Homo sapiens: one gene and its partners. The protein of the gene in region 4 purifies or fractionates together with the protein of the main gene of each other region. This does not show direct contact. Each region holds a gene or a part of one and is shown on either strand. Other genes may lie near its edges.

Region 1 (2,689 bases), 3.4 Mb from region 4:
CTCTGGCCTCCCTGCCCAGCCCTTCAGTGCTCCCAGCTCCCTGGTGCCCTGGGAGGCGGCCCCCTAGCCTGGGGTCTTGGTGGCGAAGGTCAGGTAGCCGGTGTGGCCCACGGCCTCCTTCATGGGCGTGCCGCTGCGGAAGGGGCTGGTGTCGGAGCCGGCAGGGCCATCTGTGCCTGTGCCCAGGTCGGGCGGTGGCAGGCTGACAGTGCGCACGTTGTAGACCTGTGGCAGCACCTCCAGGGTGCTCAGCTCTGAGAAGCCGCGCGCTGCCAGCGCCTGGCATGTGCGTTGCACCTGCTCGATGCACGGTGAGAAGGAGCAGAAGCGCCCGCCTGTGGGAAACAGGACCCGAGGGTCAGAGGGCAGGGGTGGCAGAGCCTGGCCCGTCTGGCCCTAGCATCCCTGGACTCCCACCCTAGGGTCTGAGGCCAGCCTAAGACAGCCCCAACACAGACTGCAAGCTCTCCAAGAGCTGGGACTGCAGGGCAGAGGGGCCTGGCCCTCAACTGACAGCCCCCCATGGGGCCTGGCGCCGCTGTTCATGTCACCCAGCTTAGCCATGCCAGGCCCTCCCATGTGCCAGGCACCGGGTCAAGCCCGCGCTGCCATTGTCTCACTTGGCCCACAGCGGGCACTGCTCTCCTGCCTTCCACAGGGCTGCTGGAGCTCTGGGCCCGGAGCAGCTCTGACAGCACGGCAGCGTGGGGCGGTGCGGGGGCCGCTGCTGTCACAGGAAATTAGAGGCTGTCGCTGCTCCCGGGAACAGGAGGCGCCTACTCGAAGCAGAGCCCGAGCATGACAGCCCCTCCCTGCCGCCTCCCACCAGGGCAGCCACGGGCTTCACTTGGCCTGGCCTGCAGTGAATGAGAACCCAGCCCGGGTCCCTGTCCTGGCAGGGAGGACCTGGGGAAGCCAGGGCCGGGTAGAGGTATGTGGCCCAGGCAAGTGTCCTCAAACGTCCCTGAGGTTTGGTCTCCTCAGCTGTACCCTAACACGGGGCCGCCAGGAGGTTCGGGGTTAGAGGAGGCACCTGCTGTGTGACAACAGCCTAGACAGGGCACAGAGGCTGAGCATGCCGCATCCTCCCCAGCGGGCTCCCGTGGCCGGCAGGAGATGCCGGGCCCATGAATGAGCCAGGAGCCTTTGGACCCAGAAGGGGGAGCTCGCAGGGAAAGGGACAGGTCCCAGAGGCAGGCGCGGGTTCCCCGAGCCACGCTGGAGGAAGGAGTCACAAAGGCAGCAGGGGGGCCCCAGGGGAGGCTCTGCCGGGTTCAGCCTCCCTGGGACTATGGTCCAGGCCCAGAAGTGTCCCCAGAGCAGGAAGCCTAGGAGGCAGGGTGTGGAGATCCCCACAGCTACCCACCTCAGCAGAGACCAGGACCCAGGAGTCAGGGCTGGGCTGGAGCCAGCAGGGGACCCCCGGCCACAGCCTTGCTGTTCGCACCAGGCCTCGGCTCATCTTTGAGGTGGGGTGGGGCGCCCAGCACCTCCACCCTTCAACCCTCTCAGAATACAACTCTCAGCTGGGAAGAAGGAAGGGGCCCCTGCTGCCTGAGCTGCTCCTTCTCCAGAAAAGGGAAAAACCCTGGGCCTCCCAGCCACCTCCCTGGCTTGAGGCCCGACCTTCCCCAGGGCTGCCCCGCCTCCGCACCCAGCATCTTCCCTAAAAGGGGCCAGCTCCCTGGGCTCCAGAGCCTGGGGGAGGAGAGGTTTTGGGAAACAGCAGGGAGGGGACTCCAGACTCCTCCGGCCGGGCCTGCCCTGCACTTGGGTGGCGCTGCCACCTTCCTCCATCAGGGGGTTGGGAGAGGCCAGAGACCAGGAGCAGGGCCCAGCCAGGGACCATCCTCCCCAGCTCTGCCTCCCCTGGCCAGCCTGACCCACTCCTCACCTCAGGCCAAAGTGGGGCCCTGGCCTGGCCACTGCCATGGTGTGGCTTGGTCTCTGGACCCCTCTGAGATCCCAGGAGCTCAGTCCTGCACCCTTGCCCCACCCCCACCCAGGCTGTACCTCTCCCGGAACCCCGGATGCACCTTCGACCTTGAGGGCGTCCCAGGCGTGGCCCACGGCCTCCCAGGGTGATGGGATGTCCAGGAAGACGGCGTCGGCCACGTGGCTCACGCCAAAGCCACTGCGGCACACGTCCTGGGTGCGCACAGTCACCCAGCGGCCCACACGGTGCTCCTGGAACTCCTCCCGGGCCTTCTCTGCCCGCTGCTGGTGGAACTCCACCGTGTGCAGGTGACCCGTGGGTGCAATGGTGCGGATGATGGCGTGGGACACAGAGCCACTGCCGGTGCCTGGCAGGACAAGAAGGGATGGGCAAGGCATCAGTTGGGACTGCTCGGGACCCACAGCCTCCCAGGAAACAACCCCCACCTCACCCTGGAGACCCACACAGGGCTTGGGAGGACCCCAAGCTACAGGTGGGCGTCATTCCAGGGCTGTATGGTCCTGGCTGCCTAAAGCCCCAGGCTAGCCCTGGGTTGGGCACCCTGTCTAGGGGTGAGCTGGGGTTGACAGGCTGTGTATGCCGTGCTGTCTGTTGTGGGCACAGGCGAGGCCAGTGGCAACCCTGCCCTATCCTGCCTAGCGCAGGTATAGGGAATGAGAGCAGCCCAGCTGCCTGGAGCCTCCGGGGAAATCTGTGCAAGGGGGACAGGGAGGCCATCCCATCACTCAGCCC
Region 2 (3,500 bases), on a different chromosome or scaffold from region 4:
GTATTTATTCATGAAATTTGAACTGTTTGCCCCGAAATGGATATGGAATACTTTATAAGCCATAGACACTATAGTATACCAGTGAATCTTTTATGCAGCTTGTTAGAAGTATCCTTTATTTCTAAAAGGTGCTGTGGATATTATGTAAAGGCGTGTTTGCTTAAACTTAAAACCATATTTAGAAGTAGATGCAAAACAAATCTGCCTTTATGACAAAAAAATAGGATAACATTATTTATTTATTTCCTTTTATCAAAGAAGGTAATTGATACACAACAGGTGACTTGGTTTTAGGCCCAAAGGTAGCAGCAGCAACATTAATAATGGAAATAATTGAATAGTTAGTTATGTATGTTAATGCCAGTCACCAGCAGGCTATTTCAAGGTCAGAAGTAATGACTCCATACATATTATTTATTTCTATAACTACATTTAAATCATTACCAGGAACTGTTTGTTTTGTAGTGAACCTTGAGTATGTGCTGTTAATATACCAAATTGGGTGAAAAAATAAGGGATTCCTTTCAAAAGTTAAGAGAAGTAAGTGTGTAAGAAATTATTTTGCTTATTAAATGTTCGGTAAATGGCATTCTCTTGTCAGTAAAATGGAGAAATAAGCTAAAAATAATTGGCTAAGTCCTATTAAGTTAGAGGATTAAGTGTATTATATTTTCATTCAAAATTGGGTGCTCATTAATTTATGATCGGTAGTATAGCTAAATTGCTATGTTTGTATCAAAATTGAGCATAAAGTTGCTGATACTTTCTCCGTATGAACAGAAGTTGAAACCTATTTAGTTCAGTAGGGCAGCTCAGGGATTTTTTACACAACATGTATATCTTCCCATTTTAAGTTAGAATTATTTTACAACATCTGGTATACATAAACAGCTGGCACTGATAGCTAAATTAAAGTAGTAATGATCAATTAGTTTTGTTGGTATCTGAATAATAGCGTTGTTTCATAGCTCTGTATTTCCTAAGGAAGTACAAAGCTTCTAGCTCTTTCATTACAAATTCGCCCTGTGCAATAAGTTCTTTGATCTTCTCTGGATTCTTCACATCTTTGTTTTTAAGGAAAATGTTCTTCAAACGCTTTTTAAAATAGTCTGCTCCTTTTGGATAGTCTCGTCCAAGATACAGCAGCTTCAAAAAGAAAGATTATATATTTCTAAACAATCCATGTCATATAATAACATTTTTATAAAATTGGCAACATAATTACTTACATTTTTATAAAGTTTTAGTACTTCTCCTCTTAAAGAATTGGCCATTTTCATTTATCATGTAAATTATCCACTTTTATGCATAACATACCTAAAGAAAGGAAAATTTTTTTGCAATTAGCTGCATTGTAGTCTTAAAAAAATAAAAAAAGGTTATACACATTGAGAAAATGGTAACCTTTTTTACATTCAATAAATATTTCTTGATAACTTTTTCGTTCCACGTACTGGGATATAGTTATAAACACTTCCGATAAAATTACCTGCTGTCATAATTGACGTTTTCCTATGGGAGACATAAGCAAAGACAATTGTGATTGTGAGAAGTCACATGAAGGAAATGAGAAAGTGGATTGTCATCACAGATAGGTACGTGTACCTCCTTTTATGCCACAGTGGAATGAGTTAAACTAGATTTAAATTCCAGTTGCATAATGTACAGATTAATTAACCTTGCTGAGCCTGAGTTTTCCTTATCAACAAACAAGAGATTATCTTTACCCTGCTCTCAAGGCAAGGCCAGAGCCACTTGAAGGACATTGAGCAGAAGCCTGATCAAATGCTGATGGGTGCTTATCCAAAGGGAGGCTGAAAACTAGCAGAAACTGGGTGAGTTAAGCAGGTTGGAATAGTAGATGGGCAGTAAGATTGGTGGTGAAGAGGCCAAATGAACAACCTGTAAGAGGGTGTCCCTGAGGAACAGGCAAAATCATGCTTCTTTATGTGTAATGTGTTAACTCTACTTTGTAGAGGAGGCTCCAAACTTAAAGGCATCATGACAGTCTAAACCTAGAAAATAATTCCCACTACCTGTTAGAGTTGAATAGTAAGCTCTTAACATTGCATCCTATCAGGTGGATGCAACTGCAATTTGTTCCATTGTGATTGATAACTTTGATTACCCAATTAATGTATTTGCTAAGATTGTCCATTGTAAAATTATTTCTCCAAGGAACCTAGTCCTTTTAATGGAGAATAGCATTTAGAAACTATAATCTGGATGGAATGCTTTAGAAACCAAGGTCTGGGTGCTAAAAATGCTAATCACCATGGGACTGTCACTGTTCCCAGGTCCTCTAAGTGACAAAGCTGCAAGTGTATATACATACGGATTTAGGTGTTGTATGTGTGTATGACTTTTATATTAATCTCCATATAATCTGCTACCTAACATTCAATTCCAATACTACAGGGTTTATTTTCATTTCCCCTCTTTACATGGGTTTAATACTCTTGCTGAACAGTGAGAAGTCTGGTTCCCACTTGTCCTTAATAAATTTACTTTTTATAATCATCACCCCTTCTCTCACTATGTAATCAAAATCCTCTTGCTGTCACCATTCGGCGCACACACTCTACTCTCTGAGCTCTGCCACCTAATGCCAGAGTGCCACTGCCACCATCCCACATGCATGGTCTTCTCTTCCCCCTTTCCCCCAACCTACCCTTCTTGGGCTCAAGCAACTTACACTGCACCATTTCCTCCCTCCTGGGTAAGGCTCACCTTTTGTTCCCATTCCAAAAACCTGTGCCACCATTTCCTTCACCCTAATAGGATGCCCTCCTCATCCCCTGCTAGGCTGCTGCTGTGCACAAGTCCCTACCCCCAGAGGCCCTCCTCACTGCATTTGGGCTCCAGTATCCCCTGCTGGGCTACTACCTTGCCAGCCTTTCTCTCGCCCCCACCTTCCCCAGATGCCTGCCTTGCTCAGCCCCACGTAATGACTTTTGGACTGAATTACTCTGATAGGCAAGCAGGAAGCAACTTTTTTTTTTTTGAGATGGATTCTTGCTCTGTCCCCAAGCTGGAGTGCAGTGGTGCCATCTCAGCTCACTGCAACCTCCACCTCCCTGGTTCAAGCAATTCCCCTGCCTCAGTCTCCCCAGTAAGCTGGGACTACGTGTGCGCGCCACCACGCCTGGCTAATTTTTTTTTTTTTTTTTTTTGTATTTCAGTAGAGACGGGGTTTCACCATGTTGGCCGGGATGGTCTTGATCTCCTCACCTTGTGATCCACCCACCTTGGCCTCCCAAAGTGCTGGGATTACAGGCGTGAGCCACCGTGCCCGGCCGCAACTTATATTTTTAAAATAGGCTTTTAGATCAGTTTTAAGGGTTATTTTATAGTTAACTAGCAGAAAATGTGGATTAAAATTACAGTACCATACTCAATTAAAAATCATGCGCTACATAATTTAAGTTCTCCTGTTAACTTCTGTTTGGGTTGAACCCCGAAGTACAATAGTGTAGATTCTCATTGTGACCTCACCTGCC
Region 3 (3,500 bases), on a different chromosome or scaffold from region 4:
ACATCTGGGGAAAGGCGGGGGCAAAACTGCTCTGGTTGAGAACTATTAGTCTTTAAAATTACCCTAGACAAGTCTTTTAATTTTTGATAATATAACTTTTGATTAAAACTAAGGGTGGAGGCTGAGGCGAGTGGATCACTTGAGCCCAGGAGTTCAACAGGGCAAAACCTTGTCTGTACAAAAAATACAAAAATTAGCTAGGCGCGGTGCTGCACTCCTATTACAGGGAGGCTGAGGCAGGAGAACTCCTTGAGCCTGGGAGGTGGAGGCTGCACTGAGCTGAGATTATGCCACTGCACTCCAACCTGGGCAGCGGAGGGAAAACTGTTGCAAAAAAAAAGAAAAGGTGCCTCATACCACATACAAAGATTAACTCAGAATGGATCAACACCCTAACTGTGAGAGTTAAAACTATCCTACTTTTTGTTTTGGTAGAGGAGGAGTCTTGCTACGTTGCCAGGGCTGGTCTTGAACTCCTGACTTCAAGTGATCCTCCGGTCTCGGCCTCTAAAACTATAAAACTCTTAAACTGTGGCTGGGCGCAGTAGCTCACATCTGTAATCCCAGCACTTTGGGAGGCCAAGGCAGGTGGATCACCTGAGGTCAGGAGTTTGAGGCCAGCCTGGCCAACATGGGGAAACCCTGTCTCTACGAAAAATGCAAAAATTAGTTGGGCACGGTGGCATGAGCCTGTAATCCCAGCTACTTGGGAGGCTGAGGCAGGAGAATCGCTTGAACCCAGGAGGCGGAGGTTGCAACAAGCTGAGATCATGCTACTGCACTCCAGCCTGGGCGACAGAGCAAGACTCCGTCTCGGGAAAAAAACAAACCAAACTGGTACTTTAAGACAGGGTCTTGATCTGGCTGAGATCCAGGCTGAGGCATCTCTAGTTTTGTCCCTTTCTTCATGCCTAGCAGTATTTGCTCATTCTCTCCTTTTCTCAATTAAGCTAAAAAACGGTTGCCAATTATTTAGTCTAGCAAAAACTTGTAGGTCCTTCTCTGCTATGGCCTTGTCAGTTTTCTTTTCTTTTTTTTTTTTTTGAGACAGAGTCTTGCTCTGTTGCTCAGGTGGAGTGCGGTGGCGCCATCTCGGCTCACTGCAACCTCCGCCTCCTGGGTTCAAGCGATTCTCCCGCCTCAGCCTCCCAAGTAGCTAGGATTACAGGCATGTGCCAACACACCCAGCTAATTTTTGTATTTTTAGTAGAGATGAGGTTTCACCATGTTGGCCAGGCTGATCTCAAACTCTTGATCTCAGGTGATTCGCCCTCCTCAGCCTCCCAAAGTGCTAGGATTACGGGCGTGAGCCACCGCACCTAGCCTTGTTGTCAGTTTTCATTTCTGCCTTTTTTTTCTTTCCTTCAGATAGGGTCTCGCTGTCGCCCAGACTGGAGTGCAGTAGTGCAATCATGGCTCACTGCAGCCTTGACCTCCTGGCTCAAGCGAGCCTCCCATCTCAGCTTCCCGAGCAGCTGGGACTATAGGTGTACGCCACCATGCCAGGTAATAAAAAAAAAGGTTTTTTTTGGTAGAGATGAGGTCTTGCCATGTTGCCCAGGTTAGTCTCAAACTACAGGGCTCAAACAATCCTGCCTCGGCCCCGCAAAATGCTGAGATTACAAGTGTGGGCCCCTATGCCTGGCCAAAAGCCAATACTTTGAAACATCATCTGATAAGGGACTTAACTTTGTATTTTTTCCTTTCCCTCACTTCTTGAATAAAAGGGATTTACCTCTTAAAACTCAGTAATAAAAACATAAGTGGCTCAATGGACAAGGGATCTCGACAGACACTTTCCCAAAGAAGATATCCAACGAGCACATAAAAAGACGCTCGTTCATGAGCCACCTGGGAACTGCAAATCAAAACCGCAACCAGATCCGCTTCCCACCCGCTGGAAGTCTAGGATCAACAAGACAGACAAGCAGCGCTGGCGAGGATGTGGAGAAACTGGAGCTCTCTTATAACTGCCAGTGGGAATGTGAAACACTGCAGCCACTCTGGAAGGCCACCTGGTAGCTAAAAGGTGAGCAGAGTTACTGTGACCAGCGACTCCACTCCTAGCTATGTATCCAGGAGAAATGGAAGAATACATCCACATAGAACTTACACCTGAACATTCGAGGCAGCACTACTCCTGACAGCTAAAAAGCAGAAACCAGCAAATCCATGAATGAATGGATAAGATGATGTGAAGCCAAGCTGCCACGGCAAGGACAGGAGCACCCACACCTGCTCCAGCATGGCCAGGACTCGGAAACACACCTCCCCGAGGGAGACGCCGGACACAGAAGGCCGTGCTGTGTGATTCCAGGGATCCTGCGTGAGGGTGACAGGCCCATCCCAGCTGAGCTGATATCCCCACATGGTGGCGGCCCACAACTATCCTGTCAGCGACAAACCCTACATGCCATTCGTGTCTGCTGTGTGCCTGGGTTTTCAGTTCTCTAAATTGAGATCTTATACCCACCTGGCTGTGTGTCCTTTAAAACAACTCAGCCATCAATTCCTACCAAATGCACTTTAATTTAAGGACCGTTCCACCTTCCAATCTTACGGACAAACCGTATTTATTTAACTGCAGCCTCCAATCTTACGGACAAACTGTATTTATTTAACTGCAGCCTCCAATCTTACGGACAAACCGTATTCAACTGCAGCCTCCAATCTTACGGACAAACCGTATTCAACTGCAGCCTCCAATCTTACGGACAAACCGTATTTATTTAACTGCAGCCTCCAATCTTACGGACAAACCGTATTTATTTAACTGCAGCCTCCAATCTTACGGACAAACCGTATTTATTTAACTGCAGCCTCCAATCTTACGGACAAGCCGTATTTATTTAACTGCAGCCTCCAATCTTACAGACAAACCGTATTCAAGTGCAGCCTCCAATCTTATGGACAAACCATGTTTAACTGCAGCCTCCAATCTTACAGACAAACCGTATTCAAGTGCAGCCTCCAATCTTATGGACAAACCGTATTCAACTGCAGCCTCCAGTCTTACGGACAAACCGTATTTAACTGCAGTCTGGTGTCTAAGGTTCAGGCTTCACATTTCATTATCAAGGGGTTCTGGGCCGGGCGCGGGGGCTCACGCGTGCAATCCCAGCACTTTGGGAGGCCGAGGCAGGTGGATCACTTGAGGTCAGAGTTTGAGACCAGCCTGGCCAACATGGTGAAACCCCGTTGCCACTAAAAGTACAAAAATTAGCTGGATGTGGTGGTACATGCTTGTAATCCCAGCTACTTGGGAGGCTGAGCAGGAGAATCTCTTGAACCTGGGAAGTGGAGGTTGCATTGAACCCAGATTGTGCCACTGCATTCCAGGCTGGGTGACAGAGCGAGACTATCTCAGAAAAAAAAAAGAAGGTCGTTTCAAGCAGTATTTCTGATGATCGAGTATCCAGTTGTTGACTCTACACTTGTATCTCATTAGCGCACTGCATTGTTCACCTCTCCTGCTCATTTTCCTGAGTCTACAGTTTCCA
Region 4 (3,158 bases):
CCCTCAGCGTGGGAAGGGGGCCACGAGGAGACAAGGGTGACAGATGCAACTCTGGAGAGGCCCAGGAGACCCCAAGCCCTTTGGACATGGCCCAGCCCAGGCCGGCTTTTCCGTCTCCACTGCCTGTCCCTTCACCTGGACACTCCTCTCCCAACAGGAGATCCTAGAGGAGGTGGTGAGAGAGCTCCACAAGGTGAAGGAGGAGATCATCGACGGTGAGTGCAGCCCCACCGGGGAGGGTGGCACCCAGGTGTGGCCGCAGGACAAGGGTCCCTGTCACCCAGGCTGGGGGCCTCCAGTTTTGAGCTGGAGCCCATACTGCACTGGGCCCTGTGAGAGATTTCATTCTTACCATCTCTAGTTGAGGAAACAGGCTCAGGAAAGCTGAAAGCTAAGTGGCTTGCCTAAGAATTTGTAGCTCCCTGGTAGCATGACACCCGAATCTGACCTTCCACATCCCCGGCACCTTCCTGGAAGACCCACGTGGGAAGAGCATGGAGGGGAGACCCCAGCATCGTTCCAGAGCCAGGTCTGGAGGAGCCACCTGAGCTGCTGTCATTCCACCCCCTGGCGGTTTATACTGCCTTCTTGATACTGCCACCTCCAGTCACTGGTGTTGGGCTTCTGAGGTGACCACTCTGCCTTCCTGGGGGTACAGGAAGACCAAGGTCTACAGAAGCACCTTCCAGGCTTGAGCTCGTTCACAGCCTGCCTGGCCCTGGGCTGGGGAACAGGCAGGGAGCAGCCTCTGGCTCCAGAGCAGGGTGGGTCTCAATGCATCACATCCGTCCTTCCGGTTCCCAGCAGAGCCTTTGAATGCTCTGCCTCAGATCTGCAGCCAGAGGAAAAGGGGGAGTGGGCAGGGCAGACTCAGTCTAGGGACGAGCTATGCAGCACAGCCAGTGCCAGCTCCCCACGTGCCTCCCCAACCAGGGTGATAAAGGCTGACACCTGGGTGTGTAGCTGGGTCTGGCCCCCAGGGCATCACAGTGACCGGGGCAAAAGGGTCCCACAAGCGCACAGGGGTGGAGGCTGATGGCAGAGGGAAGAGGCAGGTGGGAGCCCAAAGACCCAGGCCTCCTCCCCCAGCCGGCCCACCCTTGTTTGAGCAGAGAGCACTCAGTTCCTGTTTGTCCAGTTCCCCCAAAGGCCTGGGCTGGGGAGATAAGGAGTTAACAAATGAGGGGAATGAGGCAGCCTGGGCGATAGGCAGGCACTCAGCCAACTGGTCACACCGCCTTACTGCTGGGTGCCGTCTGGCCCCAGGCATAGCTGGGTCAGAAACCCAGGGCCCACCACAGCCTCTCCACCTGCTGTGGGTGCAGCCCCAGGTGGAACCCACCCTGGCTGAGAGCCCGGGGGTAGGCATGGGCCATACCAGGGGCTCTGAGAAGCAGCTCCCATCCCCCAGCCCCCACAACCTTCTCCTGGCTGTTGGCTCTTGGCCCAGCAAGGTCCATCCAGAGAGAGGCCTGAGTTGACATAGAGGAGGGGGAGTCCGGGAGGGGATGGATACCAGAGGAAGGAGGGAAAGGCCCAAATTTGGGAGGCCGGGGGTTGGAGCACTAGCTTGGGGTGATGAGGAAGCTGGGGGGAGGCAAGAGAGGACCCTGCCTCTCCTGAGGAGTGAGCAGAGCCAGGGCAGTCCCTGGGGTCCAGGGCCAAGATTTCCTGCTGACCCCTGCAGGAGCTGGGAGGGCAGAGCCTCAGCCTCCACTATGTTGGGGGAAGGGCTCCCGGGCCCCCGGCACCTGGACACCCACCTGTCCAGAGCCTACAGAGACCCTGCGTCCCCACACAGCAGCTCCTCACACCAGAGTTCTGGTGCCCAGCACTCCTCAGCAGCAGTGAGGCCACAGGCAGGGCACAGGCCTCTGTCCCTACGCCAGGTCCTCCCCTAAAAGGGCAGTGGCAGCAGGGGCCGCCGCAGAAGGAATGGCAGATGAGACCCAAAGCCTTTGGTCATCACCCCAGAGGTCTATGCCAAAGCCTGGGTGGGGCTCCCAGGAGATGGAACAGGGACACATACCAGGCAGGTCCACGCCAGGGGTGCGGGGCCCTGATGAGGAACCGGGCTGCACTGGTCATGGCTGCACCTGAGCCGCCGCCACCTGTCCCGCAGCCATCAGGCAGGAGCTGAGTGGGATCAGCACCACGTAAGGGGCCGGCCTCGCTGCGCTGATTCGTCGAGCCCATCCGGCGACAGAGGACAGCCAGAAGCCCAGCCAGCCCCAGACTCCAGTGCACCAGAGCACGCACAGGAGCCTGGGCGCGCTGCTGTGAAACGTCCTGACCTGTGATCACACATGACAGTGAGGAAACCAAGTGCAACTCCTGGGTTTTTTTAGATTCTGCCTGACACGGAACACCAGGTCTGCTCGTCTTTTTTGTGTTTTATATTTGCTTATTTAAGGTACATTTCTTTGGGTTTCTAGAGACGCCCCTAAGTCACCTGCTTCATTAGACGGTTTCCAGGTTTTCTCCCAGGTGACGCTGTTAGCGCCTCAGCTGGCGGTGACAGCCGGCCCAGCGTGGCGCCACCACACACCGCAGAGCTGTCCAGGCACAGCTCCGTCCCCAGCGCTCATGGTGTTGAAACTGTCTGTCATGCACCACGGTGTCTGTGTCCACACAGTAATAAACGGTTTACTGTCCGCACCCTCGGGCTCAGGCCCTCGCATTGGTCCATCACGCTCCGGGCTGGGGATGCCCCTTTTCAGAGAAGGGCCCGGGACCACGGTGACCAGGAGTCGTAGGAGCAAGATGGCGGTCTTCGACAGGAAGCTGGGCTCAGAACATTCCCAAGCCCCGGGAAGGTGGGGTGGTGTCCTGGGGCTGGGCCTCAGGTCCTGCCTGTAGGGAACTCCCTACGGGATCTCCAGGAAGATGGTCCCTCAAGTGCAACCCACACCCCCGAACCTCAGAGGACTCCACGTGCATTCTGACGGGCAGGGCCCTGCGAGCGTCCTGTTCAGGGGAGGGATGGACTTGGGGCTTAGCAGGCACCAGGCAAATGCAAGGCAGCTTTGCCTTCTCCTCGGCCCCACAAAGTCTCCTGGGAGGACCACCTGGCCTGCAATGGGCTGTCCCAGGCCCCTGCCCTGAGGCAGCAGCCAGAGACAGAGGTTCTGACCCTCAGCTTCAAGGAACCAGGGCCA

What was found.
Region 1: the proteins of EVL (region 4) and TRMT61A purify together in Homo sapiens (affinity purification with mass spectrometry; 2 studies listed by BioGRID and IntAct, with this or other methods). This does not show direct contact.
Region 2: the proteins of EVL (region 4) and ETFRF1 purify together in Homo sapiens (affinity purification with mass spectrometry; 2 studies listed by BioGRID and IntAct, with this or other methods). This does not show direct contact.
Region 3: the proteins of EVL (region 4) and TACC3 purify together in Homo sapiens (affinity purification with mass spectrometry; 2 studies listed by BioGRID and IntAct, with this or other methods). This does not show direct contact.

Annotation. Positions count from the first base shown.
Region 1 is NC_000014.9:103,532,196-103,534,884, reverse strand, and holds part of TRMT61A (tRNA (adenine(58)-N(1))-methyltransferase catalytic subunit TRMT61A), read right to left. Parts: intron 2,304-2,689; coding exon 2,037-2,303; intron 336-2,036; coding exon 64-335; 3' UTR 1-63. UniProt on the Homo sapiens protein: Catalytic subunit of tRNA (adenine-N(1)-)-methyltransferase, which catalyzes the formation of N(1)-methyladenine at position 58 (m1A58) in initiator methionyl-tRNA.
Region 2 is NC_000012.12:25,201,737-25,205,236, reverse strand, and holds the end of ETFRF1 (electron transfer flavoprotein regulatory factor 1), read right to left. Parts: exon of another isoform or gene 1,405-3,500; intron 1,318-1,404; 5' UTR 1,281-1,317; coding exon 1,230-1,280; intron 1,147-1,229; coding exon 925-1,146; 3' UTR 94-924; downstream 1-93. UniProt on the Homo sapiens protein: Acts as a regulator of the electron transfer flavoprotein by promoting the removal of flavin from the ETF holoenzyme (composed of ETFA and ETFB).
Region 3 is NC_000004.12:1,731,521-1,735,020, reverse strand, and holds part of TACC3 (transforming acidic coiled-coil-containing protein 3), read right to left. Parts: intron 1-3,500. UniProt on the Homo sapiens protein: Plays a role in the microtubule-dependent coupling of the nucleus and the centrosome. Involved in the processes that regulate centrosome-mediated interkinetic nuclear migration (INM) of neural progenitors.
Region 4 is NC_000014.9:100,141,579-100,144,736, forward strand, and holds the end of EVL (ena/VASP-like protein), read left to right. Parts: intron 1-157; coding exon 158-215; intron 216-2,122; coding exon 2,123-2,160; 3' UTR 2,161-2,658; downstream 2,659-3,158. UniProt on the Homo sapiens protein: Ena/VASP proteins are actin-associated proteins involved in a range of processes dependent on cytoskeleton remodeling and cell polarity such as axon guidance and lamellipodial and filopodial dynamics in migrating cells.